Linked DNA regions of Homo sapiens. The protein of the gene in region 6 interacts with the protein of the main gene of each other region in a pairwise test. Each region holds a gene or a part of one and is shown on either strand. Other genes may lie near its edges. The genes, in order: TPP2, EMP1, ERGIC1, SLC14A2, cystathionine beta-synthase, EHHADH and SFT2D1.

The links.
Region 1: the proteins of EHHADH (region 6) and TPP2 interact in binary tests that used the Homo sapiens proteins (3 or more experiments, as listed by UniProt).
Region 2: the proteins of EHHADH (region 6) and EMP1 interact in binary tests that used the Homo sapiens proteins (3 or more experiments, as listed by UniProt).
Region 3: the proteins of EHHADH (region 6) and ERGIC1 interact in binary tests that used the Homo sapiens proteins (3 or more experiments, as listed by UniProt).
Region 4: the proteins of EHHADH (region 6) and SLC14A2 interact in binary tests that used the Homo sapiens proteins (3 or more experiments, as listed by UniProt).
Region 5: the proteins of EHHADH (region 6) and cystathionine beta-synthase interact in binary tests that used the Homo sapiens proteins (3 or more experiments, as listed by UniProt).
Region 7: the proteins of EHHADH (region 6) and SFT2D1 interact in binary tests that used the Homo sapiens proteins (3 or more experiments, as listed by UniProt).

The regions. Positions count from the first base shown.
Region 1 is NC_000013.11:102,638,478-102,642,641, forward strand, and holds part of TPP2 (tripeptidyl-peptidase 2), read left to right. Parts: intron 1-1,792; coding exon 1,793-1,899; intron 1,900-4,164. UniProt on the Homo sapiens protein: Cytosolic tripeptidyl-peptidase that releases N-terminal tripeptides from polypeptides and is a component of the proteolytic cascade acting downstream of the 26S proteasome in the ubiquitin-proteasome pathway.
Region 2 is NC_000012.12:13,209,562-13,213,725, forward strand, and holds part of EMP1 (epithelial membrane protein 1), read left to right. Parts: intron 1-1,907; 5' UTR 1,908-1,949; coding exon 1,950-2,027; intron 2,028-3,917; coding exon 3,918-4,014; intron 4,015-4,119; coding exon 4,120-4,164.
Region 3 is NC_000005.10:172,920,799-172,924,962, reverse strand, and holds part of ERGIC1 (endoplasmic reticulum-Golgi intermediate compartment protein 1), read right to left. Parts: exon of another isoform or gene 3,437-4,164; coding exon of another isoform or gene 3,338-3,436; exon of another isoform or gene 2,876-3,337; coding exon of another isoform or gene 2,860-2,875; exon of another isoform or gene 2,661-2,859; intron 959-2,660; coding exon 854-958; intron 1-853. UniProt on the Homo sapiens protein: Possible role in transport between endoplasmic reticulum and Golgi.
Region 4 is NC_000018.10:45,621,529-45,625,692, forward strand, and holds part of SLC14A2 (urea transporter 2), read left to right. Parts: intron 1-3,102; 5' UTR 3,103-3,136; coding exon 3,137-3,286; intron 3,287-4,154; coding exon 4,155-4,164.
Region 5 is NC_000021.9:6,453,766-6,457,929, reverse strand, and holds part of cystathionine beta-synthase, read left to right. Parts: coding exon 1-9; intron 10-556; coding exon 557-636; intron 637-730; coding exon 731-865; intron 866-979; coding exon 980-1,049; intron 1,050-2,260; coding exon 2,261-2,352; intron 2,353-3,173; coding exon 3,174-3,299; intron 3,300-3,856; coding exon 3,857-3,941; intron 3,942-4,164. UniProt on the Homo sapiens protein: Hydro-lyase catalyzing the first step of the transsulfuration pathway, where the hydroxyl group of L-serine is displaced by L-homocysteine in a beta-replacement reaction to form L-cystathionine, the precursor of L-cysteine.
Region 6 is NC_000003.12:185,189,985-185,193,111, reverse strand, and holds the end of EHHADH (peroxisomal bifunctional enzyme), read left to right. Parts: coding exon 1-886; 3' UTR 887-2,488; downstream 2,489-3,127. UniProt on the Homo sapiens protein: Peroxisomal trifunctional enzyme possessing 2-enoyl-CoA hydratase, 3-hydroxyacyl-CoA dehydrogenase, and delta 3, delta 2-enoyl-CoA isomerase activities. Catalyzes two of the four reactions of the long chain fatty acids peroxisomal beta-oxidation pathway.
Region 7 is NC_000006.12:166,318,685-166,322,507, forward strand, and holds the end of SFT2D1 (vesicle transport protein SFT2A), read right to left. Parts: intron 1,573-3,823; coding exon 1,533-1,572; 3' UTR 1,044-1,532; downstream 1-1,043. UniProt on the Homo sapiens protein: May be involved in fusion of retrograde transport vesicles derived from an endocytic compartment with the Golgi complex.

The DNA.
Region 1 (4,164 bases), on a different chromosome or scaffold from region 6:
ATACTGACTCTTGTGTGCTCTGAGAGTAACTGATGGCACCTGGCATCTGCCCTACCTCTGCATCAAAACTATTTCCACCACAGTCACTCTGAGCTCTGCATTGCCCAGTTCAGAGGATAACTCAGGCTTCGTCTGACCCGATCCCACTGTAGTATTTGACAATATTACTTCACTCCCCTCCATTCCTGCCCTTTTTGTCTCTGTCGTTTTTGGGATTTACTCTCTTCTCTTAATGCTTCCACTTTTCTAGTTATCTACTGTAGAAGCAGAAGTTAAGAAACTCTTAACTTCCCATCTTATTCCTCTGGAACCAAGGAAAAATCAGCAGATTATATTACTTCCTGCTTAAAGTATATCAGTGGCACCTCCAAAGGTCAAGTTCAAGCTCCTTAAAATAGCAAACAATGCTCCCTCACAATTATAGCCCTAGCCAGTGTTTCCTGTCATTCCGTACACCAAATTACACATTTTGGCCAACTCACTGATTTTGGCACTTGAGGATTCTCAGGATTTGTGCATGTGCACAGCTGATAACTTGGTTTCAATTTCCTGTCTCTTCAGTTAATGACCAGGTGCATTCCTGGTCATCCCTGGGTGAAGGGAGTCCCTTCTTTCTGCTTCGTGGCACATTTTACGTGCCCCTGGACAGACTTTAGCCAATATATTGTAATTTTTTATTTAACTTACACTCTTTCACTGTGAGCCCACCGAAGGCACAGAGACTACTGTTATACAGGATGTATAAAATAAATTATCTAGTGGATGAAGGTGAGATTGGGATTGTGAGAGTACTGGAAACCAAGTGGAAATTCTAAACTAACAGTTCTGTTACTCTGGTAAATATTAAGTATGCAATAGATCTCAGCCCATGAGAAACACAGGATGAAATTGAGGAGAATAAATTTAAAAAGTGGTATACATGTGGAAAAATTGTGCAACAGTTAAATTCTCAGCCGTATATTCCCTCGAAGTCCAGTAGTAATTTAGACCAGGTAATGTGTAAGACCTTCAGGAGTCAGCTGCCACGCCATCTCCTTCAGGAAGCTTCCCAGGCTCCGTAACTCTTCTTGTCTATCTGGAGCATCTTATGTTAAATGTCTCTGATGATGATTCTCTCCATGCTAGATTGTCTAGGTTAAAGAATCATATTTTCTTCTTTGTTACGTTTCTAGCTCCTAATAACAGGGCCTCATGTAGTAGGCACTCATTTAACCGTTTGTCCTACTGACAAGAATTTGTCTCTAGCATAAAATTTGTTTCCGTGGTGGGTAGTTATGCATTTGAACTTTATTTCATTGATTTCTTACAAAAGTGCTTTGAAAGTAGTTTGCCTTTCTTTACTGTTTTACATCATGGGAGTGTTTTGAAGCTACAGGAGGAGCTTAATTTAACACAAGTCTCATAGCTATAATACCAGTGACATAAAACTTTATCATTGATTTTAATATCTAGGACTCACTGTAGTTTGGAATCTGGTAATTGGAAAATTCTGTGAATGTTGTAGAATGCCTTTAACAAAAAAGAGAATGCTTTTTTAATAGTGTGTGTGAATGTATCTTACAAATCATAAAATAGGCAAAAAGTAGAATCATCTATACTCTGCTATTCAGAGGTTATCTCTGCTAACCTACTGCAAAAATTGAACAATATCGTACCTACTGTTTTGTAACCAGCTTCTAAGTCCCTGTGTTTATTTCCAATGAATTGTTATTTTGCGTTTATCCAATGAAATCTAGAGTATCTGTGGTCTTATAATAAATATATACATTTAATTACTTTTATTAATTTTCAGAGTAAATGAATCATCACATTATGATCTAGCCTTTACAGATGTACACTTTAAACCTGGTCAAATTCGAAGGCATTTTATTGAGGTTCCTGAGGGTGCAACATGGGCTGGTAGGTAAAATTAAAATCTGTGTGACCGCTTATCTCTGTTTACGTTCTAATGACTATAGCTGTATGAGGTTCGTTTATCTGTAGCATGTATTTCCCTGGTACTAATATATGTATTTGGGTACCTTAGACTTTCTGTAAAGTTCAAAACGTTTTTAAGATCTAGTACAATTTTGCATTGGCCCATACAGGAAATTAAGCCATCTTAAGATGTTTTTAATATTTAAGGTTTGAGCTTAGTTTAGAATAATGCCTTACCTGGTAATAATTTTTTTTTTTTTTTTTTTTTTTTTTTTGAGACAGAGTCTCACTCTGTCGCCAGGCTGGAGTGCAGTGGCATGATCTCGGCTCACTGCAACCTCCACCTCCCCAGTTCAAACGATTCTCCTTCCTCAGCCTCCCGAGTAGCTTGGACTAGCAGGCGTGTGCTACCACGCCAGGCTATTTTTTGTATTTTTAGTAGACACGAGGTTTCACCATGTTGGCTAGGATGGTCTCGATCTCTTGACCTCGTGATACACTCGCCTCGTCCTCCCAAAGTGCTGGGATTACAGGCATGAGCAACTGTGCCCGGCCTAATTTTTAAAATACTACAAATCAGTTTAAACAATGCAGCTGTTGCTTAAACCTCAAACTGTTAAACTCTCAGAATTTTAGAAATAGAGCTTTAATCTTTGAAGCTCTGTTTATAGAAGATTTTCACTTCAGTGTCTCTGAAATTTTGAGAGTAAATGATTGCCTAACACAAAGCTCTTGAATTAACATGTTATAGTCCTGTGAGAGTGCTCATGTCATTCTTTTTTACAAGAGCTGTGGGTGTACCATATTTTCCTTCACAAGTTGTGTGTCCTAAATTTACAATTTAGCAGTCAGTATAGAAGGGTATGTCAGTTGTCAGAGCTCACTCCCATTGATAGAAGGAAGCAAATACGGGCAGTCAAGAAAGTGTCACCCAATTTAAATTAGTAGCCAGCATTGTTGATACTTCTTGGATTTGGCCCCTCTGCTAAGCACTTTACAGAGATTATCTTGTCTAGTCCCGTCAGAACCCTATAAGGTAGATAGGTGTCATTAGTAAAAATGGCTTGTATTTTACTTAGGAGTGTGTTTTTTGTACTTGTATGAAAGTACAGATATATTTACATCTGAGACTTTATTGAAAATGAAATATTGAAATCACACATGTATGACTTGGTTTGGGAATAACTGGTTGTATTTGGTTCCCCATACCATTTTCTGGTCATCTATCTGTATGCTGTCCATCTGTTTGTCACCTGGTATCACAGGAAATACCAGACTTTTCTTGTTTTTTGTAATTAGGTAAAGGCAAAATAATAGCAAAAGCTGAGAGCTAAAGCAGTGAATTGAACAGCACCCAATATAGCCTGTTAATTTGCACACTGGTTTATAATGGAGCTATTGCAGCAGTGAGAGGCTTCTGAGGATAATCGGGTTGTACTACACTCATTCATTAAGCATATTTTTCTGTACCATCTGTGCCAGGCCCTTTTCAGTGGGCTAAGGTGGTGAGCTACTTAGACAAGGACCCTGCTTCCAGAGGCCTTGAGAGCATCTAGTCCAAGATATTGCAGTTAAGAGAACTGGATTAGAGGGAGGCAGCACAGAGTAGCGGCAAGGCCACGGGCTTTGGAAATTGAGAAGTCTGGGTTTGGATCCACACTCTGCCATACGCTAATGGTTACCTGGGGGCAGGTTTCTAAATTTTCTGGACTTCTGTTTCAACTGTAAATATAGTCGTTAGTCTGTTGTAAGGATTAGGGATTTTATAGTACTTGGTACATAGCTTGTCTTCGTTGGGATTACGCTCACACTTGACAGTACTTCTAGAGGGTGGAGTCAGAGTTGCTGTGTTCAGCATTCCTGGGGTCCCATTCTCATAGGGCCCCTGGGACTTGTAGAGCTCCAGGCTCTGGTAAAATGTGCACTGGTAAATTAAAGAATACAAATCTATGGTTAATTAATACTGAATTGGGTACTTGTTTAGTGATAAATGGCACTGATTTATGATTGGTTTAGGTTGGTATTGAAAATAATTTGTTTTTTTAAATAAAAATTATCAAATGATCTAGAATGCAAGTAGTTAAGAGAATTTAACAGTCTTAGTTTTATTTCAAATAATTAGAAATATTGTCATAACACTAGATTTTGTATTCTTAGCAACTGACTAGGTTCTGAGAGCTCTCTGCACACCTGGTTTTATGAGCCACGGCATTGCGCCTTGCTTCAGTTCCCTTGAATTAGCTTGGG
Region 2 (4,164 bases), on a different chromosome or scaffold from region 6:
AGCTAAAGCAACCCCATTATTAGTAGCTGCCATGTGTCAGACACTAGGTGTTTTACATAAACAATCTGAATTCATCCTCACATTTCCCTTTGCAATTGACATTGCGACTTCCACTTTCTAAATGAGGAAACAGATGAGCGGTCAAATAACTGGATATGATTCTAATTCATCCTCTGTCTGATTCAAAAATCTCTTTTTACTGTGCATTTAAGTCAAGCAGAAAATTGGGGAGGTGTGCTAGAACCTGAGAAAAGCAAAAATGAATTTGAATGTGTGGGGGGATTACTAATAGCAGACATGAAAGCTCCAACCTCTCCCCTGAAGAGGCAGGATAAACGTCATAATTTTTGCATTCACAGTTAAGTTGGACACATTCCTAAAAAACAGCCTGGGTTGGAAGGAAGTGGCCAGATTGGGAAGGGGCTGTTGGAGACGGTCAGGGAGAATGGTGGAAGCCATTGTCTGCCTCTCATTCCTTGCTTGCAGAGAGCAAGGCACCCTGATGTATATTAGATCACTCTAGATTTTTGGTTGCCTGATAAAGACAGTGAGAGGAGATAAAAGGCATGTGAAGTGTTGGAATTATAGTATCAGTGCTCTCTAATAAATACCTGATGTGGCATGAAAGTGCCTCAAGCACATTCAAAGCATCAATTAAATTAGGTGGAGTGAGAGAGGGCAGTGGAACAATTGCAGGATGCGCCTGGCCATCTCCTCCCTTGGTTGGGGCATCCACACATCCATTCTGTCTAGGGTGTGAATAACCTCAAGCCCTTTCCTTTTGATGTCCCTCTGAGCCTGCACTGCTTTGTGACAGTCTTAGGCATGACAAAGCTCTCCTTCTGTAGCTGACATAAATCAGAATAGCCTCCCCCATGTGTATCCTTCACACTTCCTTTATTTCCTAGGCTTTATGATCAATGGGCTCCCTTCTCTGCTGTGATTATGGCTGAAAGCTTTTGTTTATCCATGCACATTCTTAATCGATATTAGTTCCCAATCCTCCCACCCTGTGATTTATGCATTTGCCTGTCTTCTGTATTGAGTCCTGAAGGATTGGAATTTGTGTAAATGTCATGTACAAGGAGAAGGCACATTTGGTGCTATCTCAAGTTGCATTACTTTTAAAGCCCCCAGAACCATCACATTGAGCTGTGGAAAATATGACTCTCTGCCCAGACCAATGGCAGGCTTCCTGCCATGAGGCACACAGAGCCCAAAGGCTCAGGTGTAGTAATACTAGTCTGAAATGCTCAGTCACAGGGTGACCAGACCATTAAACTGTAATTAGGTTGTTATAATTATTGAAAACCAAACAGCATTATAATAATAGAATTGTGCCTCTCACATTTTATATCTCGCCCAGGATCATATTAGTAGCCTATTCAGTATATGGGCATTGAGTAATAGCTGCTATTCTTCAGAAGGCATTTACTTCTATTAAAAGTGCTGGGTGAGCAATTTGATGAAAGCATGGACATTTTCCTAGTGGAAAATGGACATTTATATGACATTGTTCAGAGACCTGGAAATTATAAAGGCCTACTTCTTTGAAAATCAAAGTCCTATTTTTAACCTCTAAAACACAAACAAAATAAAATACGAACAGTTATCATAAAATGTTCTTGTTCCTTTTTTGAAATAGAATGTATTAGAGAAATGAATATGTAAATACCCAAGAAGAAACCAAATTCTGTTTCCATGTAGGTATGTATAACTGGATGAATAGGCACTTAGGCAAATCAGAACTAGGTTACAGGGGTGTTTTCAGGAATTTATGATTAGATTGTGATGGTTTTTAGTGCAGCTCTTCCTCATGTTAGCAGATAGCCCACACGTGTGGGAAAGCTGAGTCGTCTTATTGAATCTGACAGTAACCGTTTTTGTCCCTTTCTTTTTCTTTTCAGAACTCTCTTTGCTCACAAGTTACCAAAAAAAAAAGAGCCAACATGTTGGTATTGCTGGCTGGTATCTTTGTGGTCCACATCGCTACTGTTATTATGCTATTTGTTAGCACCATTGCCAATGTGAGTAATGTTCTTTTGTTCATTCATTCATTGAGAAATCATTCGAATATTTACATCAAGTGCACAAAAGAAGTTTAAGCCACAGCCCTTGCCCTTCATGAACTTACAGCTCAGTTGTGGGAAAACAAAATAAACACACGCTTGCCCTTCAAACAATTAAATAACAGGAGGATAAAAGTGAATGTCCACAGGAGTAATCCTGCCAGAGCTGTAGGTGGTTAAGGGCTGGAGGATCTAGTGCAGCTTCTTCGGTCTCTAGAAGAGCCTTCCCAGCAGCAGGGGTGAGTGGAGCTTGAGGTGAACCTGGAGGAGTGGTAGATGGCTGAGGTTTCTCTTAGTGAAAGAGGGAAGGTGGAAGGATCATAGGGATGCATTCAGGTGGGAGTGCTAGCAAAGGAGCATATGTAGGAAGGACAAGCTTTGGTCAGAGGATAAGGAGGACACACACCTATGTGGCTGGAGCCGAACTTCCCCTCCTTCTGAGAAGCTTGATTAGAAGGATAGATGGGAAGAAGAGGATGCCAGACTGACAAATTCAAATTTTGAGCAAAGAGTAGCATGTGAAAGTGGAGTTTTGCAAGATTAACCCAGTGCCACTGAATTAACTAACTCAGACAAAACGAGAAAAAAAAAATGGAGGTAGTGTCTTTTCTCTCTGAACCCTGGGCTACTCTGACCTCTAGTGGTGGCTTACAGCGCCCAATTTGCTTTTACTTGTGCTTTTCTCAGAAAAAAGCCAGCTCCTTGGACCTAAAAACCAAGGCCACCAATCACTAGGCAGGCAAACCATGGTTTCAGAATCTGTTTAGGTCCCTATCACAGTTAAAGTATAAGTGAGTTTTAAAGTTCAGATAGAAGAGCTTTGCAAACATTAGTGGGTGTGATCATAAGCAAGGCTAATTAAGAATAACTGTGATAAGACAACCCCCGCCCACGTGACCTCCTTGTTTTGTAATTTAGCCATTCTATATGTCAACTCCTATATCTATCCAGATAAATCTGATAAGCTTCTTCAAAGTGTATTAATGAGCGCCAAAGCGCTGCGTATCTGTGAATTACCAGCCCCTAATATAAGGCTAGGCACACAGTTGTTTATTGAATGAAGAGCAGGGATTGGCGTAGGTGATGCATGTTCCCGGCCCCACCTTTCCAGTGTGTGCATTTGTGTGTGTGTAGACAGGACACTGCACTTGTTTTCTCTTCCAGAAGGATAATTCCTTTTCTTGGGCCAGGCAGGAAGGGATGGCGGCACCATGATCAGTCTGGGGGAATCCATTCAGGTCACCCTTCAGCTTTTAGTAGCCCCTACAGGAAAGCACTTGCTGTAGTATTTTACTATCAAATTACTTTGCATGTTGTGACAGTCAAGTTTGATCCTTCTGTTTAGATGAAAGTGGCTTATTAACCACTAGATTCATTGTTATTTTCCCAGTAGGTCTTATGTTTCTTAATTGTTTCCAGTTGGACATTTCACTTTTTTCCTGGTTAACCAGGGACTTAAATGAAACAATCTTGTTAGAGTATATGAACTGCACATACCTAAGCCAGTTTCCTCATCCTGGACTTCTGTTTCTCAGAACCTTAGAATTTTAAACCACTGTGGTTGAGTTACTTCCATTTTTGTTAAGTCGTGAAGAATGTGGAGCCCAAAGAGGGCTAGGTGATTTCTTTCTGGGTTTCACATTCTTCTGTGTCTCTTCTCTTGGCAACTTTGTGAACTTCAGTTTTAATCGGACCTTATTTCCGCCCACAGATAAGCTGCATAGCCATAGTTATAGCTAAATAGAATGTCTTTATTAAAATCTGATCCCGATGCAAGCTGATTTGTTATTTTATTTTTAAATCAGAGGGCCAGCTTTCAATTAACATTTTCTTTCCTTCTGGTTTCAGGTCTGGTTGGTTTCCAATACGGTAGATGCATCAGTAGGTCTTTGGAAAAACTGTACCAACATTAGCTGCAGTGACAGCCTGTCATATGCCAGTGAAGGTATATATAAAGATATTGACCCAGTGCTGACAATAGGTGTGGTCAGGGAATGTTCAGCCCCTGGAGTGACCTCATGCCCTTGTTCTCCTCGTCCTGTGTCTACAGATGCCCTCAAGACAGTGCAGGCCTTCATGATTCTCTCTATCATCT
Region 3 (4,164 bases), on a different chromosome or scaffold from region 6:
CCTGGCCTGTACCATTATTTGATCAACATCTGTCTTCCCCCCTAGACTGGAAGCTCCAGGTGGGCAGGGACCATGTTTGTCCTCACCAAGGTATGCAAGGCCTGGACACGGTAGGTACTTTGTAAATATTTGTTGACTAGATGGATGGACAGAAAATGAATGGATGGATGGGCCCTAAGCTAAGTTCTGTACATTTTTTTAAAAAAATCAGATTTCCACCCCACTAATGACTAAACTTGGGACTGTAGTTTCTGTGTCCTTCTGTTTTGCCCCTGCACGTGGCAATGCGAGACCGCTGCTCCTCTCCCCTCCACCTGCCTCGGTCTGGGCCCTTCCCTCACCTCCCTGCCTATAGTCTTGCCTCCTGGGTCCATCTTCCTCATTGCAGATGGGTGCTCTGAGTCACCAACCAGACCTTCAGTCTCCACCTTCCTCAGTCTACCACGGGTCTCTCGCACCCCACACACCCCACCTGCCGGCTCCCATTTCAGGCAAGTGCTCTGGGCCCTCTCAGCTGCCAAGCGAGCCCTTGTGCCCTGGACCATCTCGGCACAGAACATGCCGTGTCACATACGCTTACTGATCCATTTTTCTGAAAGTAACCTTGAGGGTCTTTCACATGAAAACCACCAGCTGGGCGCTCTAGGAGAGGGGTGATGTTTGAGACGCCCCCTGCCTAGGACCCATTTCCCTGTTCTGTTCCTGGTGAAACCCTTCTTACCCTTCCAGGCTTGGCTTAGATGTCACCTTAACGGTAACTCTTCCTAGTGCCCAGAGAGGGCAGAGGGCACTGGGTGACAGAGCCCCTGAAGGCCCACCCCCGGCCATGCCATCTCGAGTGTCCCCTGCTCACCTGTAGCGTGTCCCCAAAGGAGAGCTTGTGGATGACATGCGTCATGTCTGGGTTCTGTGGCTGGGCTGTGGCACTGTGTGTGGACACGTGGAAGTTGCCGGGGACCTGGGGGAGAAATGTGAGTTTCAGGAGTTTGGTTGACTTCTCCAGGGGGCGGAACATTGGGGCCTCACCCTGTGTGATCCAGGGAGGACACTGGAATCAGGCAGATCTGGGTTTGGATCCTGCTTGTATCATTTTCAACTGTGCAAAGGAGTCACCCCATCTCTCTGGGCCTCAGGCTCCTCATCTGCAGAATGGGGGCACTACCATAGCTTCCGAGGGGGCTGCCAGGACTATCTGGTGAGAGGGTGCATGTGAAGTGCCCATCTGGGCGACGGGCACAAAGCCAGGACTCATGGCAGCTGCTCCCCCTCCAGCTCTGTGGATTCTGGGCGGCTGACCCCACAGTCAGCTGGGGGATGACCTTTGAGCTTGCAGACTAATGGGGATTCCTCAGACTCCAAACCCCTATCATTTCCTACCCAAGTTTGCCCCAGTGCCCTAGACGGGGGATCCCTGATGGACAGACTGTGGTAGCCTCATCTCTTCCCTGGGTCTCAAGCCCTCGCAGAGCCAAGCCAGCAAGAGGTGCTGGATGAGTATTTACAGAACAAAGGATGCTGGTGACAACCATGTGGCAGGAGCCACTGCAGCTTCTCCTTGTTTCAGCACGAAGTCCCTCCTCCTCCCCCTCCTCCCCCTCCTCCTCCCAGATGCTTAGACTAGAACCCTTAGTATGATCCTGGAACCCTCCTCCTCCTCCCAGATGCTCAGACTAGAACCCTTGGTATGATCCTGGAACCCTCCTCCCTCCTCCCAGATGCTCAGACTAGAACCCTTGGTATGATCCTGGAACCCTCCTCCTCCTCCTCCTCCCAGATGCTCAGACTAGAACCCTTGGTATGATCCTGGAACCCTCCTCCTCCTCCTCCTCCCAGATGCTCAGACTAGAACCCTTGGTATGATCCTGGAACCCTCCTCCTCCTCCTCCTCCTAGATGCTCAGACTAGAACCCTTGGTATGATCCTGGAACCCCCCTTTCTCACTCCCGACGTCCCATCCATCAGCTGAAACCCTGTTAGCTCCACCTTCCAAACACACCTGGCGCCTGACCTCTTCTCTGCTGCCCTGGTCCAAGGTCGTCTCTTCATGGACAACAATGGCAGGCTCCTCCCTGGGCTCCCAGCTTCCATGTTCCCCACAGCCTGGGCCTTTTCCCAATAATGACTGTTAAGATCTTTTTAAACCCTACATCAGATCTCATCACTCCTCTGCCCAGAACCCTCCACGGCTTCTATTCTCTCAGAGTCCAGGTCCATGTCCTCGTGGTGGCCCACAGGCCACATCTGGCCGCTGGCCAAGCATCGTGTCCCCACCGCTTGGCCTCCTGCTGCTGTGTCCTCTGCTGCTTCCTGTCTGGTCTCCTGCCGTGCCGGGAACAGCATCCAGTGTGGCCCCATTTTAGGCCTTTGTGCCTGCACCCCTTCCTGGGACCCTCTTCCACATGGCCCTCCCTCGGACCCTCAGGGCCCAACAGAGAGGCCCTCCACGTCCACCTGTGCAAAAGAGCACCCTGGCCCCCATTCCCCATCCCCTTACCTGCTACAGCCTCTGGGATCACCTGCCATCTCATACCCATCCTGTTCTCGTCTGCCTCCTCCCATTAGCATGTCCACGCCCTGCTGTGCTCCCCAGACTCCGACACATAGCAGGTGCTCAATAGACACTTTTTGAATGAATGAATGACTAAACAAACAACACTGAATCCTTTGACTTTGTCATCTGATAATTCCCATTTTACAGAAAAGAAAATGGAGGCTCAGAGCAGTGAAGAAACTTGCTAAGGTCACATGTCGAGAGCTGCAGTCTCAGCTCACGTCTGTTGGACGCACTGCTCCCTCCTCTGATGCCTGGATGCCATCTACCTCCGCAGCCTGGGCTGATGGCCACATGGCGCCAGTCCTTCAGGAGATGCCGGAACTGGGGAGATGAGCAGACAAGAATCTGGCCTTGGCCAAGCCCCTGTGACACAGACTTGGAACAGACAATGAGACTCTGTGGGATCCACCCTGGCCCAGAGGAATTTGCAGACCATGGGGGTTACAGGGAAGGCCCCCGGCTCAATTGAGGGTGCAGGCTGTATTCAGGGAGGGCTTCCCAGGGGGAAGGACATCCTGTGTTAAGGCTCTGAAGATGAGTCTGCATTACTCAGGAAGAGAGCGAAAGGCATCTGGGCAGAGGGAACAGCATGAACAGGTGCAGAGGACAGAAACTTCCCAGCATGTGGGCTGTCTAAGGAACTAAGAGTCTGGTATTATTGAACTCCAAATGAGACGGAGGTGGCGGTGCTGGCAGCAGCAGGAAACAAAGAGGCACAAGGGAGGAGTTGGGGCTGTTTATCAAAGGTCCCCAGATGCCACACTGAAAAACTCGGGGGTTACCTTATTCCAGCCCAATGAAGAAGACTGTGCGAGCTGTGTCCGAGGAGGGAATATAGCTTATCGTGCAGCAGCCCATCAAAGTCTGATTTTGTAAGCATGTCTGTTTCAAACACAAAGTTGGGGACTTCCTGCAGGAATATTCCTACTTCAGCAGGGCCCGAGCTTGTGGCTGACAGGGGAGGCATCAAGCTGACAGCCTGTAGCCTCGGCCTCAGCAAACTCGCAGTGGAGCGAGCTGCAGGCTACAGTGGAGAAGGGACACTTGCTGGGTCAGGAGTGGAGCAGAAACAAAGGCGTGGCAAGATCTCCCTCGAGGGACAGCATCGCCTGCTTCAGGGACCCAATAACCCATAGTAGAGCGGTTGCTCTGAGTTCTACACTTGGCCCCAAGCCCAGCCCCACTTCCTAGCTGGGGAGCCTTAGGCGAGGTCAGTAACCACTCCATGCCTCAGTTTCTCCATCAGCGAAATGGGCGTAAAGCCAGAAGATTACTGGGAGGATTCATTGAGGTGATGCATACAAAGCAGCCCGCAGCTGGCCTCAGATCGGGTTTGTAGGGTGAACATGTTTGTCATCGGAGCCAACCAAGAAGGGCCCTCCCGGAAGAGGGAACACTCACAGGCAGGGCGTGAGGAAAAGCCCACTGTGGGTTTTAACATTTATGCCTCATTTTCACCGATAAAAATAATGCCTGGGTACATTTTCATGATAAAACAGTCATGAGACACAGTCAGACTAAAGACCCTGTTGCTGACCACCCCTGGGAGTAAGAAACCCACAGCCATAAGGCGTGTGTCCTCCCAGAGGTTTTCTACGCAGTGACACAGG
Region 4 (4,164 bases), on a different chromosome or scaffold from region 6:
ATGCAGAGAAGTGTTCCCTATCTATCAGTCACCTGTAACCTTGCTCACAGTCGCTTCCTCCCCCCCACCTCTTCCTTCCATATTTATTTATTGAACCCTTACTACATGCCACACACTGTGCTAGGAGCTGGGGTCAAAGCAATAGACAGAACAGAGGAGGCCACCGTCCTCATGAAACCTAAGTTCTGGTGGGAAGATAGAAACCATACAAATAAATATACAAATCTGCTATAAGGAAAAATACCTGGTCCCATGAGAGTATGTGACAGGAGAACATGGTGGGTGGATCTGCGAGGGTTTATTTAGCAAGTGATCATTGAGACAAAGCCTGGCAGAAGTGTAGGGGTTGACCAGGAAGAGTGAGGGAAAGGTCTTCATGCCAATGAACCAGCACTTGCAGAGGCCCTGAGGTGGAAAGTGTTCAACACCTTACAAGTACTAAAAGGAGGCCAGCATGGGGCCTGGAGTCATGGAGCCAGAAAGCAAGGGACTCACTAAAGCACAGTGGCAGCTCAGAGCCTTGCACACCCTGTCAAAGAGGTAGTTTTCCATCTGAAAGCATTGATGGGCTTTAAGCAGGGATCCAACATGAGATTAATATGGCAACTCTTCCCTGCGGGGCATGGCTTTGAGGAGAAACCTGGGAAAAAGTAGGGATATCCAAATGAAAGTCATTGAAGATGTGGTAAGAGGTGATGGTGGCTAACTGGTGACCATGAACGTGAAGGCATATTTTTTAGAGACAGAATTGTTAAATTTAGAGAGTAAGAAGAAGGGAGCATTAAGTGTGACTCCTGAGTTTTCTGAAGGAATGGCTTGGAAGGGGAAGATGACTTTTCCTAGGTGGTCACCTGTGAGGGAGGATAGGATTTGGGAAGGCAACATGATGAGTTGTTTTGGCAAATTAAGGCACTTGGAACGTCTATATGTGAGTGTAAAGTAGACAACTAAATCTGTTAATCCACTGCTCAAAACTGGGCTGGAAATGTGAGTTTTGAGGGTCATCGGCAGGGAGATGGAATACGAAGCCATGCTGAGGGCTGACGTCACCTGGGTAGGAGCACCAGGGCTGAGAAGAGGGCCCGGAACAGGGGTCTGCAAAATGCTCCTGTTACACGAAGAAGAGCCGCCAAAAGAGAGTGTGAAGGAGCAACCAGAGAGGGGAGCAGATATAACGGCCAAAGAGTGTGTCAAAGAGGGTGATCAACTCTCAGAACACCACTGAGCAGCCTGGTGGGATGGGGACTGAAAGTGGACTTGCCATGGAGGCCTTAGAGACCACAGCAAAGGCAGCCATAGCAGAAAGCAGACTGAGCTGGACTAAAGAGAGAAAAGGGAAGCACCTAGTGTTCACCTGAGGACAGCAATCCAACTTACAGTGAAAGCAATCTACTCGGTTATTACCCTTGTTCTCTAGCCATGTTCAGTTGTTTGGTGAAAGCATGGAAAAGTTAGGCATTTGGGTTTATCCCGGCTGGAATTTCACCATACAAGCATGAGGGAGGGAGACAGGTGCAAGAGAGTTGGAGGAAGTAACATAAGGGGCCATGAAGTTAAGTTGGTCAAGGAGGGAAGGGAAGACAGGTGGTTGTGGGAGCTGAAGGGCTGTCAGAGGGGTCACCTGAGCAGGTGAGCCAAATGTGCAAGAGGAAGTGGCCAGAGGAGAGATCTGACTTTTGAGATTTCCAGTGTGTGTGATATTAAGCCCATGCTGGGACTGTGGAAATCAGTTGCTGAAAAGGGGAGATGAAAAGGTTCACTGGAGATGAGAAGGACAAGGATCTGAGAAGCCAGAGAACAGGATGATGAGTTATCTGCCTGGACATCGAAGCTGCTTAAAGTTACTGGAGGGGGATGAAGATGATTAGTAGGAGCACTTCAAGTCTTCTCTGAATGACAGAGTGACCAGAGAGTCAGTAACGCAGCAGTGGGCAGTTGGAGAGGATGGTATGGCCATTTGAGATAAGCCTCAAAGAAGAAGGGTTTCTGCCCAAGCAAGGTGAGTGGTGCTCAGAAGAAATTGTGGAGAGTAAGAATTCCTCTCATTAGGAGGAGGAGAGGTAATAGCCTAGCGAAATGGAACTAATGCAAAATTAGATAGGGGACTTTATCCCCTTTTGAAGGGAATCCTGCAATCCTTGAGCGGTGTCTGGAATGATGAGTATACGGAATGGTAGTACCCATGTTAGGGATCTGTGATCCCTGTCCTAAGAGAGACGGTCCTACACTGAAGGGATGCAGCATGGAGCACGGAGCAATGGGGAAAGCTCTAGGTCATACTGAGAGGAGACCGCATGCAGGTCCAAAACCACCTCTCAAATAAATAAATAAAAAGATATAACTGAGCTGGAGGAGGCTAGAGAAGAAATGCACAAATGGCTGTATGGGAAGGAGAGAGTACAGCACTACCAAGGGGAAGCCAGACAAAACCAGGAAACTGAGGACCTCAGGCAAAGGATGTTCCAAAAGCAAGTCATGGCATAAGCCCTGACCCTGGTGGTACGGGGACAGGAGCCCCATGTGGAAGGGAAGCTCCTTCAGCTGGGATGCACACAGCTCATGGAAGAATAGACCAGTGCTTCCTACTGTTCCTAGGGAAGGGAAAGAGGGAAGGAGCTGGAAATGGTAGAGGGAAGAGAAGGAAGACTGGAGATCAGTTGTAAGCAATGTAGCCTCCATAGAAATTCAGGAAGAGTTTCTCTTAGACACCCCCCACCTCCAATCAGTACTGGATCTGTGTGTACGTATCAAGGGGAACATACGTGTACCACTAACTACCACAATAGGACGGCACAGCAGGCAATATGAAAGGCAGAGAAAAAACACTCAGTGATCAAGAGAAAAAGAGAGACTTCCATTCTGACTCAGTGGTCAGGGATATCTTCATCGGCCAAATGGACATTCTTCTGGACGCGGAAGAATGGGAGGATTTTGAAAGGTAATGAGGTAGAGAAATGTCCTCAACTCTACAGCACAAGCTGTAGATCCCACGTGTGTCACTGTCCAACCCCCAGGACAGACCTGAGGTCTGAGTCCAGCCTCAGCCAAGTCCCTCTGGGCCCCGTCCTGACTCACTAGCTCTTTCCCTTTCCTTCCGTCTAGTCCATCGATAGAAGAGTGGCTGTGACCCGAAGGAATGTCTGACCCCCACAGCAGTCCTCTCCTGCCAGAGCCACTTTCCAGCAGATACAAACTCTACGAGGCAGAGTTTACCAGCCCGAGCTGGCCCTCGACATCCCCGGATACTCACCCAGCTCTGCCCCTCCTGGAAATGCCTGAAGAAAAGGTGAGAAGTGTCCCTCCTAGGATGTTTCCTGGGAGGGAGGGGATGGGAAAAGTGGGGGCAAAAGATGCCGCTTTCCCACCTTCCCAGTGAACTTAGCACACTGAGGAAGTGCCACTGTCAGTACATGGTGACACCCATGGTGGGTCCTACCTGGCCTTAGATAATGTGGCTCTTCATGAGACATGATTTTAAGGACAAGTACAGAATACAGACACTCACTCACCAGTCTTTCAATCAGTCTCTAAAATCTTTCCCCTTAAACCTGCTCCCTTGAACTACCCTACTGTCTCCAAAGGGAAGGCCTTTGTTGAAATGCAGGCCATTAGCATCCTCGGTGGTAGCACAGAGGTAGACTGGCTGGCCACTGCTGCAGTAGAGAGGGACTCAAGACTGCTGGGATGGCCTTCCAGAGCTGTCCTGACTTGCGATGAGGAGGTCCCATATCTTTACTCATCACTACTTTGAAATTACAGAAGGTATTGGATCTGCTGTGCATACATGTGTATCTTAATTTTTAGTAAGATTATAACTGCATTTCAGTATAATTGGCTTGGTTTGCCGTCCTATTTATCTGATCTTTGCATTTACAAACATTATTCTGAAAAGAAGCTCATGGGCTTCATTAAACTGCCAAAAGAGATCCATGGCACAAAGGTGAAGAAATCCTGCTGTGAAGAAGGTGCATGGTCCTGGGAAGAACAGGCTTGTACGGGGCACTCTATGCAGCCGCAGACAATGGGCATGTGTTCCACCCTTTGTCTCATGATCCTTTATTTTTATCAAAAAACCTGCCACCCTCCTCTATCCCCAAATGTCCCTGCTCTCAGAAAGCTGTATCATTTGATGTCTGGTTGGTTTCTCCTAAAAGGATCTCCGGT
Region 5 (4,164 bases), on a different chromosome or scaffold from region 6:
GGAACACCGGTGGGTGCCAGGCCCAGAGGGGGTGGCCGGGGCTGGCTGTCCCCTACCCATGCCGAGCCTGCCGGGACCCGGGGGGGATGGATGAGCTGCAGCCGCATGTGCTGGCCCGCCTGGCCGCCTGCTCCCTGGCATCTTGCACCCGCTGCCGGCCTGTGTCCCAACCTAGCTTCCTTTGACCAGCATTCGGGGCCAGTGCCGATGCTCTCGGGGCGATGGCACCTGGCAGTGCCTGGCACACAAGACGAGCACCCGGAGTCTGCTCTTCCTGTGCCTGTGTACCCGGCTGGGCCTGGAGGAACCAGATCTCCTGTCCTGCGCCGCTGCCTCCTCCTCCTTGACGTGTACCTTTTATTTCTGCCTCTGGCAGCCTCTCTCCCCCTGCACTTGAAGGCAGAAGCAGCCATGTTGGGCAATTTTGGAATCCCACAGAACCCTCTTCCCTGGGCCCTAAGGGAACCGGCATCGGGGTGTGCCCCTGTGTCCCAGGCAGGGGCGGGGCAGGGCTTGGGGGGTCACTGGGCCCCTCTCACCCTCTGTGTGCCCTCAGGGATCGGGCTGGCCCTGGCTGCGGCAGTGAGGGGCTATCGCTGCATCATCGTGATGCCAGAGAAGATGAGCTCCGAGAAGGTGGGTGGGCGTGGCCAGGGGCGGGGTCATAGGGCAGGGGATGAGGGTGCCTGGGCCAGGCGGAAGGTGCAGGCCACCGCTTTCCCTCCTGCAGGTGGACGTGCTGCGGGCACTGGGGGCTGAGATTGTGAGGACGCCCACCAATGCCAGGTTCGACTCCCCGGAGTCACACGTGGGGGTGGCCTGGCGGCTGAAGAACGAAATCCCCAATTCTCACATCCTAGACCAGGTGAGGCACCTGGGGCCTGGAGACAGGCATTCCCTAGGAGGGTCTCGGTCAGGGATGTGGGGGTGACTGAGGTGTCAGGGGTCAGCTCACGGGCTCTGCTCTCTTTCTATGCAGTACCGCAACGCCAGCAACCCCCTGGCTCACTATGACACCACCGCTGATGAGATCCTGCAGCAGTGTGATGGTGCGTCCCTCTGTCCATCTTGATTGCATTTATCCCTGGCTGCCTGGGAGTGTACACATCTCTTGCCCTCTCCTTGGTGAACTCCTATTCACCCTTCAGAACCCAGCTCAAATGTTCCCTCTGTGAAATGCTTTTCTAGAGCATTTCTCTAGAACAATTTCCTCCCTCCGTTGTGCCCTCTTGGCCTCCGCCTGTGGTTTACCTGTAATAGCAAACACAGGGCATGGCTGTATTTGTTTACCCAGCAATCTCTGCAGGTCTGCAGGGGCTCCTCCTGCAGATAATGCAGACAGCGAGTCTGTTCAGGGCCCAGGCTGGTGCTGGGCTCACAGCTTGGACTTCATTTGGGATCATGCCCTGACTCGGCATCAAATTCATCTGCAGAACAGAGCTGGTGACATCTGCGATGAGCTCACTCTCTGTTACAAGCATGAGGCCGGCTCCTTGGGCCCTTTTCCAGGGACTCGGTGCCAAGGCCTGTGGGGGTTGGTACTGAGGTTTTCCCAAGAGATCCCTTTAGAGATAAGTTGCCAAGAGGTTGGCGCCCTGGCTTCCTATTGGGAATCCGGTGTTGGCATGGGCTGGAGTACACCCTCAGTCCGTGCCCAGGAGCCGGGCTGTAAGGTCCAGGCATTTGGTTGTTTGGGCTTTATGTGTGAGAACTCTCTCATTTGGCAAAAACAGTCCTGTCTCAGCATGGGTGCCCAAGCTGCTCCGTCTCGCTGAGTCTTTCCCTGCTGTGACTTCTCCACCAGATGCCCGCGCTGGCGGCCAGCAGTGTGAGCGCCCAGCGAGTTTCTGCGCTGAAGCCTAAAAGACTGATTCCATTTCCTGTGTAAATTCAGTTAACTCACTCACACCACGCAAACATCCAACAGCCCACGGAGGTGGTTAATTCACAGCCTCCCTCTGCCCGCCCTCAGCGCCTGCACCCCCCGGACAGGGTCCTGTCTTTCTGCATCCAGCCAAATGGGGGTTTTAGGGGTCGAGTGTCACTGAGCAAAGACTGGGCTGGGGTGCCCCAGGCTGCCTGTTTCTGAGGCTTTCACAGACCAAGGGCAGCAACGAGGGCTGCTCCAACTGGAGAAGAAGTTTTTCTTTTGAACTTTTTGGTTACCCACCGTGGTTTGGGCTGAGTGTGTTTTCAATGATTATTACTATGAGTGATGGGCTGGCCAGGCAGGGACCCAAGAATGTTATCCGTCCACCAGGGAAGCTGGACATGCTGGTGGCTTCAGTGGGCACGGGCGGCACCATCACGGGCATTGCCAGGAAGCTGAAGGAGAAGTGTCCTGGATGCAGGGTGAGTGGTGTGGCCGGGCCGGAGAGGGGCAGTGCGGAGTGGCCCCGGCTTCTGAGCTGAAAGCTGTCATTCCTCACGGTCTGCTCAGCACGCTGTCTCCCGCGGTATTTCTGCGCTGCCTGGGAGGTGTTTGGGAAGACAAGGGTGCTTGACACATAAGGGACCAGCAGCTCGTGACCCGAAGGAGCTGGGGCTGGGTGCTCGCTCACCGGCCAGTGTCTTGGAGAACCTTCCTGCACTGAGTGGGGGGTCGGAGTTCCAACTGGGGGCCTCTGAGGATCAGCCAGGAGCTCTAAGTCCTCTGGTCCTGAGTCTGCCCCTCAACTGGGGCTTGTGGGAGTTGGGAGAGGGTTCCTGGACTCGGGGTTAAGAGCAGGTCTGAGGACGGGTGCCTAGAAAGGTCCCGCTGATGAGACAAGGGCGTTCTCTCCCTGTTGCTTGCCCTTGAAAAAGACGTCACTGCCCAGCAATGCCCTTTGTCCCCAAAGGCTCTGCTGCTCCGCCGCAGGGTGGTCTGTCTGGACTGTCCTGGGGGCCCCGCTCCGAGAAGCACCCCGGGGAGGTCAGTTCCTCCCAGGCACCTGCCTTTACTTCTGAGCGCCCTGCACTGAACATTTAGGTCATTACCGCTTTAATACTTGGAGCCTGGGTTCTTGGGTTTCTCATCCTGCCTCTGAGGCTGGGAACAGGCCACCACCCACAGGCAGATCATTAACAGGCAGTTGTTAACGGCGGTATTGGCCACTCCCATAATAGAATATCGAGGCATGTCCAGGCGGGGCTTTTGCTGGCCTTGAGCCCTGAAGCCGCGCCCTCTGCAGATCATTGGGGTGGATCCCGAAGGGTCCATCCTCGCAGAGCCGGAGGAGCTGAACCAGACGGAGCAGACAACCTACGAGGTGGAAGGGATCGGCTACGACTTCATCCCCACGGTGCTGGACAGGACGGTAGGTCGAGTCCAGAGCCCGGCCACAGTGCCGGTGCAGCCTGTAACTCACCCTCACACTGGGGAGCCTGGCTGACCCTGGGCCCCAACCAGCTTCTCCACTGAAACAGAAGGGCAAGCCCCGCACGCATGGTGAGAAGCTGGTCTCGAAGGTCGAGACAAAGTAGACTGGGGGACGATGTCCGCACACGTGGCCTGACCTCACCAAGGGATGTAGCCCAGGTGGCACAGGCAGGGAGCAGGGAAAACGTGTGAAAATTAAGGCCCCGGAAAAGTCTGTTAAGAGCCAAAAAGCTGACTTTGGCCTGAGGGAGAGCAGAGACCGAAGGGCCGGTGTGGGTCACACGGATGCTCAGTGGGGCTGGCGGGCAGTTTTGCTGTCTGCAAAACGTGTTGGAACTGGAAAGTCTGCAGACGTGCCGATCCCAGGGGGAGAGGCTGGGGTGAGACCTCTGGGGTCCTACCGCCTAGACACGGGGTCCACCATGAGGCTGTTCACCCTCTTGGTCACGTGGGAGCGGCTCCCACGCTGACGGGCTGTGGTGGGGTCCTGCTCAGGTGGTGGACAAGTGGTTCAAGAGCAACGATGAGGAGGCGTTCACCTTTGCCCGCATGCTGATCGCGCAAGAGGGGCTGCTGTGCGGTGAGTGGGTGGCGGGCACGGGGGTATGGGGAAGGCAGAGATGGCTAGGGGGCACTGGGGATGGCTGGGGGCGCACCCTCAGTCAGCCACCGACCTGCATGTGTAAGACAGCAGTTCTGAGGAGTGTCACTGCGGCGGCCACGAGCCTCAGGTGTTGTCTGCCTGCCCAGTGTGGTCACCTGCTCAGGTGAGGGCAGGAGGCCATGGGGCGGGGCTTCGAGCT
Region 6 (3,127 bases):
TGGCACCCACTTCTTTTCGCCAGCTCATGTCATGAAGTTGTTAGAGGTTATTCCCAGCCAATACTCTTCCCCCACTACCATTGCCACTGTTATGAACTTATCAAAAAAGATTAAAAAGATTGGAGTCGTTGTAGGCAACTGTTTTGGATTTGTGGGGAATCGAATGTTGAATCCTTACTACAATCAGGCATATTTCTTGTTAGAAGAAGGCAGCAAACCAGAGGAGGTAGATCAGGTGCTGGAAGAGTTTGGTTTTAAAATGGGACCTTTTAGAGTGTCTGATCTTGCTGGGTTGGATGTGGGCTGGAAATCTAGAAAGGGGCAAGGTCTTACTGGACCTACATTGCTTCCAGGAACTCCTGCCCGAAAAAGGGGTAATAGGAGGTACTGCCCAATTCCTGATGTGCTCTGTGAATTAGGACGATTTGGCCAGAAGACAGGTAAGGGTTGGTATCAATATGACAAGCCATTGGGTAGGATTCACAAACCTGATCCCTGGCTTTCCAAATTCCTATCACGGTATAGAAAAACCCATCACATTGAACCACGTACCATTAGCCAGGATGAGATCCTTGAACGCTGCTTATATTCACTTATCAATGAAGCATTCCGTATCTTGGGAGAAGGGATAGCTGCTAGCCCAGAGCACATTGATGTTGTCTATTTACATGGATATGGATGGCCAAGGCACAAGGGCGGGCCCATGTTCTATGCTTCCACAGTTGGGTTGCCCACAGTTCTAGAGAAATTGCAGAAATATTACAGGCAGAACCCTGATATTCCCCAACTGGAGCCAAGTGACTATCTAAAAAAACTGGCTTCTCAGGGAAACCCTCCCCTGAAAGAATGGCAAAGCTTGGCAGGCTCCCCTAGCAGTAAATTGTGATTCAGTCTTCCAGATTATGCCTCACATGCTAGCATCAGGTAATGCTGACTGAATTTCAGTGAAATTAAATCAAAAATCCAAAGTAAGATTGTTCTGAAATACAAAGCAAAATAAATAATCATTAGAATCTTCTGTGTAACGACTCTAATGGTCAAATCTTTAGGAATGTGCTTCCTATGCCTCTGAATCTGTCCTTATCAGATAAATTCAATGCATGAACTTGTGTGAATATAATACCATAATAGCTAATGAAAGAGGCTCAGGCATAAGTTGAGATTCTCAAATGCTTTTATCATTGGATAAATGTGTCATCAATTAATAAATGATAAATGCAGCTAAGTCATACATTCATTTTGACTCCTTTCAATGTCACACACATAGTATTGATCAGAAATCTTATGAATCATACATACACTCAACAAACATTAAAGTTGTAGGAAAAAGACAGTTGGAAATTGGTAAGGGAACTGAGTACTTCAAACCAGCACAGGGAACTTAGGTTAGTGTGGCAAGCCTTTCCTCTTCTGGTCTTTCCTCTTCTGTTTATGGAGAAATAATAGAAAGTAGTAAGTCGTTAACTTAGTGTAAGAAGGGTCTTAGAGAACATCTAACCTTCTAGGATTTCCCAATTCTGTGATAGAGTAATGACACCAGTTTTCCTGTCATGACAAGCCTCTGTGATGTTACATATGGAAATGGTTGAATCTTGAAAAATCTAAAATTGTTGCAAAACATATTTTGTATGATTTTGTTGTAAGAGTTCTTCTCTTTTTACTTTTTGCCTTGTGTAGTTAAAAATTAAGGGGCTGGTCAATACAAAAACTTGTACACAAATATTTATAGCAGAATTATTCATAATGGCCAAAAGCTGAATACAACCCAAATGTCTATGAACTAATGAATAGATAAACCAAATCTGGTATATCCATACAATGGACTATATTATTCAGCCATAAAAAGAAATAAAGGGCCAGGCACAGTGGCTCACACCTGTAATCCCAGCACTTTGGGAGGCTGAGGCAGGAGGATTGTTTGAGGCCAGAAATTTGAGACCAGCCTGGGCAACATAGCAAAACCCTGTCTCTACAAAAAATACTTTCCGTACATTAGTGGTTGCCTAAGGCTAGAATTGGGGGTGATGAATGGGGAGTACAGGATTCATCTAATGGGTACAGGATTTCTTTATGGTTCATGAAAATGGTCTAAACTTATTGTGGTAATGGTCACATAACAATATATTAAAAACCATTGAGTTGTATATTTTAAGTGGGTGAATTATATGGTATGTGAATTATATCTCAATAAAGTTGTTAGTAAATAAATGGGGCTGAAGATGTTATCCTTCATTGTGGTGTAAATGAACTTTCACAATATTTTCACCTGTGAACCCAAATAAAATGATTAAAGTTCTGATGGAAAAATCTTGAATGGAGTATAAGTTTTCCGTTGTTAAAAAGCAAACAAAAAACCAACAAAAAATCCAAGTGTGCCTTGAATTGTACAGAGCACAATTATTATGTTTGAAATGTGTACTACTTAATTTTATATAATTTGGTTTGTGAAATTAAAGACATCAATAAAAATGATTCCTGAAAGTAGTAATTTTGTCTCCAAAGTGACTTGCTTTCAAATCAGTGTTAAAAAAAACCCACTAACTTTTTCTTCAAACCTGGAATTAATTTTGAGTTCTTACAACTTATTTTCACCCTACAGTGGCCTCTAGATTAAGGGGGTTTTTTTTGTTTTTTTGTTTTTGTTTTTGTTTTTTTCTGACTGGAGTCTTGCTCTGTCGCCCAGGCTGGAGTGCAGTGGCGCTATCTCAGCACGCTGAAAGCTCTGCCTCCCAGGTTCACACCATTCTCCTGCCTCAGCCTCCTGAGTAGCTGGGACTACAGGTGCCCGCCACCACGCCTGCCTAATTTTTTGTATGTTTCAGTAGAGACAGGGTTTCACCATGTTAGCCAGGATGATCTCAATCTCCTGACGTCATGATCCACCTGCCTCGGCCTCCCAAAGTGCTGGGATTACAGGCGTGAGCCACCACGCTTGGCCTAGATTGAGATTTTGAAACTAGAGGGTCTATGAATAGGTTTTATGAGTCAATAACCCCTGAAATGTTATGATAAAGTTTGTGTACATGTATCTGAGTACATTTCTTGGAAAAGGTACCATATCTCACATCATATTCTAAAAAGTATCATGACCCGACCAGGCGCAGTGACTCACGCCTGTAATCCCAGC
Region 7 (3,823 bases), on a different chromosome or scaffold from region 6:
CTTCTTCTGTGGCATTCCACACATGCCACGCTCTGCCCCTCCATGCCACCCTCTTCCTCTGCCCCTCTGCTCCTTGTCACCCTCCCTGCAGCTGGGTGGGCTGTCCTCTATACGCCCCCTGCGGCTGGGTGAGCTGTCCTCCACACGCCCGCAGAGTCCTGTGGATGTCTCTGAAGCCCCAGTCCCCACACCTAACAACTGGGAACATGTCTGTCTCCCCCATAATCGTAAAGTCTTTGAAGACAAGGACGTCTGTTGCATCTTCCTTGAGCACCAAGCACAGTGTCCGCCCACTCACCAGAACTCACTCTTTTCCTGCACCTTCTTTTCCAAGCGCGTGCCTGACTTCCAGGGTCCTAAGGCCTGACCCTGGCTCCCTGCCAGCTTAGTCTCCCTCCCCACCCCAGCCCACTCCTGGATTTCAGCCACACCTGATGACCTGAACAAGGTCCGGCCACCACCACCCAGTGCTACACAAGATCCCTTCTGCCCATCTGCCTGCTGCCCCTCAAGGACATCCCCCTCAGCTCTCCTCTAAGCTGACTGTGCATAAAATGCTGCTCCCATTACCCTGTTGTATGCTCTTTATTAACTCTCCCTACCCTGGACAGACATAGAGCCGCCTTCCCTCCTGCTGGCACCACATCATGCTGGCACCCGCCTATCTGCCTCTCCCTGGCAACTGAGGAGACCAGGACAGCCAGTGGGAGACTTGCAGGGAGGAGGAGGGCGCTGGCTAGTTCTCCGCCCTCTCTGCTTCTCCTCCAGCCTGGGGTGAAGGTAGCTTCCTGCTGCCACTACTGTCCAGTGGCCTGACTTCTCCTGACACCCTCACAGTCAATGCCGCCTCACCTCCTCCCCCTGCACTTCCTGGAATGGGCTCTGCTGTCAGTCCCATTATCTCTCACAATTTGTATTTAACAGTATTATTTAGGGGAGAGACTGTATCTTCCTCATTTTTCTACAGAGAGACTGTATAGTGCCTAAACTAAATATTATTGAATTGAGTCACTTAAAATATTATAAATTTGATTCAGAAAATGTTATTTTTCCAAGGATGGGTTTATTTCAAAATTGTAAAGATTTATATATTATTTTTATTACATATAATAAGCAATTTTTAGCTTAAAATAAGTTTCACATTTAAAGTAAAAAAAATCTTAAAAATGCAGACATTTTTTAAAAGCAAAAAAGTTTAATTATCTTGCAGCACAGGTCTACCTTTAAATATTCACATTTCAAAGCTGCTTTGAAAAGATTTAAAAATTGGCTAAAAATAATTTACAACTGGCAGTGATTAAAAATCTTATCTTTGGAAAAGTATATTAATGACACATAATGAATTTAAAGTTACAAGCATTTAATGGTTTAATCAAGCATGTAGTTTTTACCAGTATACAAAATGAGACTTAGTACAAAACGGTCTTCAACTGTCACGTCAGTTGTTCCTGGAGTGTTTTATGGGGAAAAGCAAACTTCACCAAACATAGAGTACCAACATTCAAGTGCTCTTTTCCACAAGTTTCTGATTTTCAACTTAGGAGAGAAGAACAGCATTTAATAACTGCATCCCTGGTGGAAAAGAGAGGGAAAAAAACAGAATATAATATTCCTCAAAAGCAAAGTTGCGCAAAATGTTCCTGCTAAATCACCTTTTTTAACAGAACTCAATGGATGCTCCAACACACTTTTTGATTAATAAAAACTTTGTTCAGTATCATTTAAGATTAAGAGCTAAGATTTGAAAACATTTTGCTGATTTTTGACATGGTATTTATCTTAAGAAATTTTTACTGGCATATACACTGATCTCAATCAAAGAAATAAGTTTAAATACCAAAAATAACCTAACAAAAGATCTAACTTTTTTCTTTTTTTTTCCTTTTGAGACAGGTTCTCACTCTGTCTTCCAGGATAAGTGCAGTGGCGTGAGCAGATCCTCCCACCTCAGCCTCCCAAGGAGCTGGGACTATAGGGCACACCACTACACTAATTTTTTTTTTTTTTTTTTTAATAGAGATAGGGTCTTGCTATGATGCCCAAGCTGGTCTCAAACTCCTGCGCTCAAGCCATCCACCCGTCTCAGCCTCCCAAAATGCTGGGATTACAGGGATGAGCCACCAAGCCCAGCCCAAAGATTTAATTTTTAAAAAGAACTAGGCCAGGCAAGGTGGCTCACGCCTGTAAGGCAGGTGGATCACTTGAGGTCAGGAGTTCAAGACCAGCCTGGCCAACATGGTGAAACCCCATCTCTACTAAAAAACACAAAAATTAGCTGGGCGTGGCAGCGGCAGCACGTGCCTGTAATCCCAGCTACTCAGGAGGCTGAGCCAGGAGAAACTCTTGAACTTGGGAGGTGGAGGTTGCAGTGAGCAGAGATCACGCCATTGTACTCCAGCCTGGGTGACAAAATGAGACTCCATCTCAAAAAAAAAAAAGAACTAATGAACTGAGTTTCAAAACTGTAATGTTTATAACTGAATCCTCAGAATTAAAAGAAGATTGAAGTGTGACCTTTCATATTTTCTTCCAAAACTGTTATTACTTGATACTTCATTCATTAAAAAAGCTTTTACCTAGGCCATAAAAAATATCCACTAATAAAATTCTTATAGGCAAAATCTGTACATTGCTTATTGCTCTCGAGTGTGGGATCCTGTGTCTGGAGAGGCTGGTCATGTTCTTGAAGTCCTGCCATCTCTTCAGAGCCTCTTGTATGGGACATCACGTCTAGAGGTCCTTTCCTCCGCACCAAGAAGTATTGGAGGTCTCCTTGCTCTAAAGTTCCTATGCATGGTAAATTACCCTTGCACACTCCTGTTAAGCAGCTTTCTCACCTGTAGCTAACTTTGTTTTGCTTTTTCTCCTTGTAAGTATCTATCAGAAAGAATCATACATTTGAAATGGAATAAAAATAAAATTTCTACCAATTTCCTTCACTGTTCGTATTAAAGACAATTTTGCTGTTTTTAAATATATAACATATCTTTGAATTTCACAAACAGGCAAAGCTGTGCCTCACCAGAATCTTTTTCTAAATCTATCAGATTTAAAATTGGAACTAGTTTTGTTTTCTCCTCCACGGCTAAATACATTTCTCTGGAAAAATATTTTAAAATGCCGGTTACCTCTTGACATACAATTAAAATGTTTTTGCTGACCAAAAATAAGCATTTATGTGTAAGCCCTCATTTTCCCAGTAACTTCCTTTTTTATTGAGATGGAGTCTGGCTCTGTCACCAAGGCTGGAGTGCAGTGGCACGATCTTGGCTCACTGCAACCTCTGCCTCCTGGGTTCAAGTGATTCTCCCACCTCAGCCTCCCAAGTAGCTGGGATTACAGGCGCCCACACCACACCCAGCTAATTTTGTATTTTTTAGTAGAAACGAGGTTTTGCCATGTTGGCCAGGCTGGTCTTGAACTCCTGACCTCAAGTGATCTGCCCACCTTGGCCTCCCAAAGTGCTAGGATTACAGGTGTGAGCCACCGCACCCAGCCGTAACTTCCTTTTCTTAAGTAGAATTTGTTTTCCTGGAGTCTCTGTGTCCTATTTTCTGAACTCCTAAAGCCATGGAAGGGTCCAGAATCTCATCCACATTCCCTAGTGCACGCCAGGCAGCAGGGCGGGAGGATACTCCCCACAGAGCTGCTCCATGTCGCCAAAATGTTTCCATACAGACATTATCATGGCAAGCTGCTATTCATCTCATTGAAAACATGTTTACTGCCGGGCGCGGTGGCTCACGGTTGTAATCCCAGCACTTTGGGAGGCTGAGGCGGTAGGATCACAAAGTCAGGAGATTGAGACCATCCTGGCCAACAT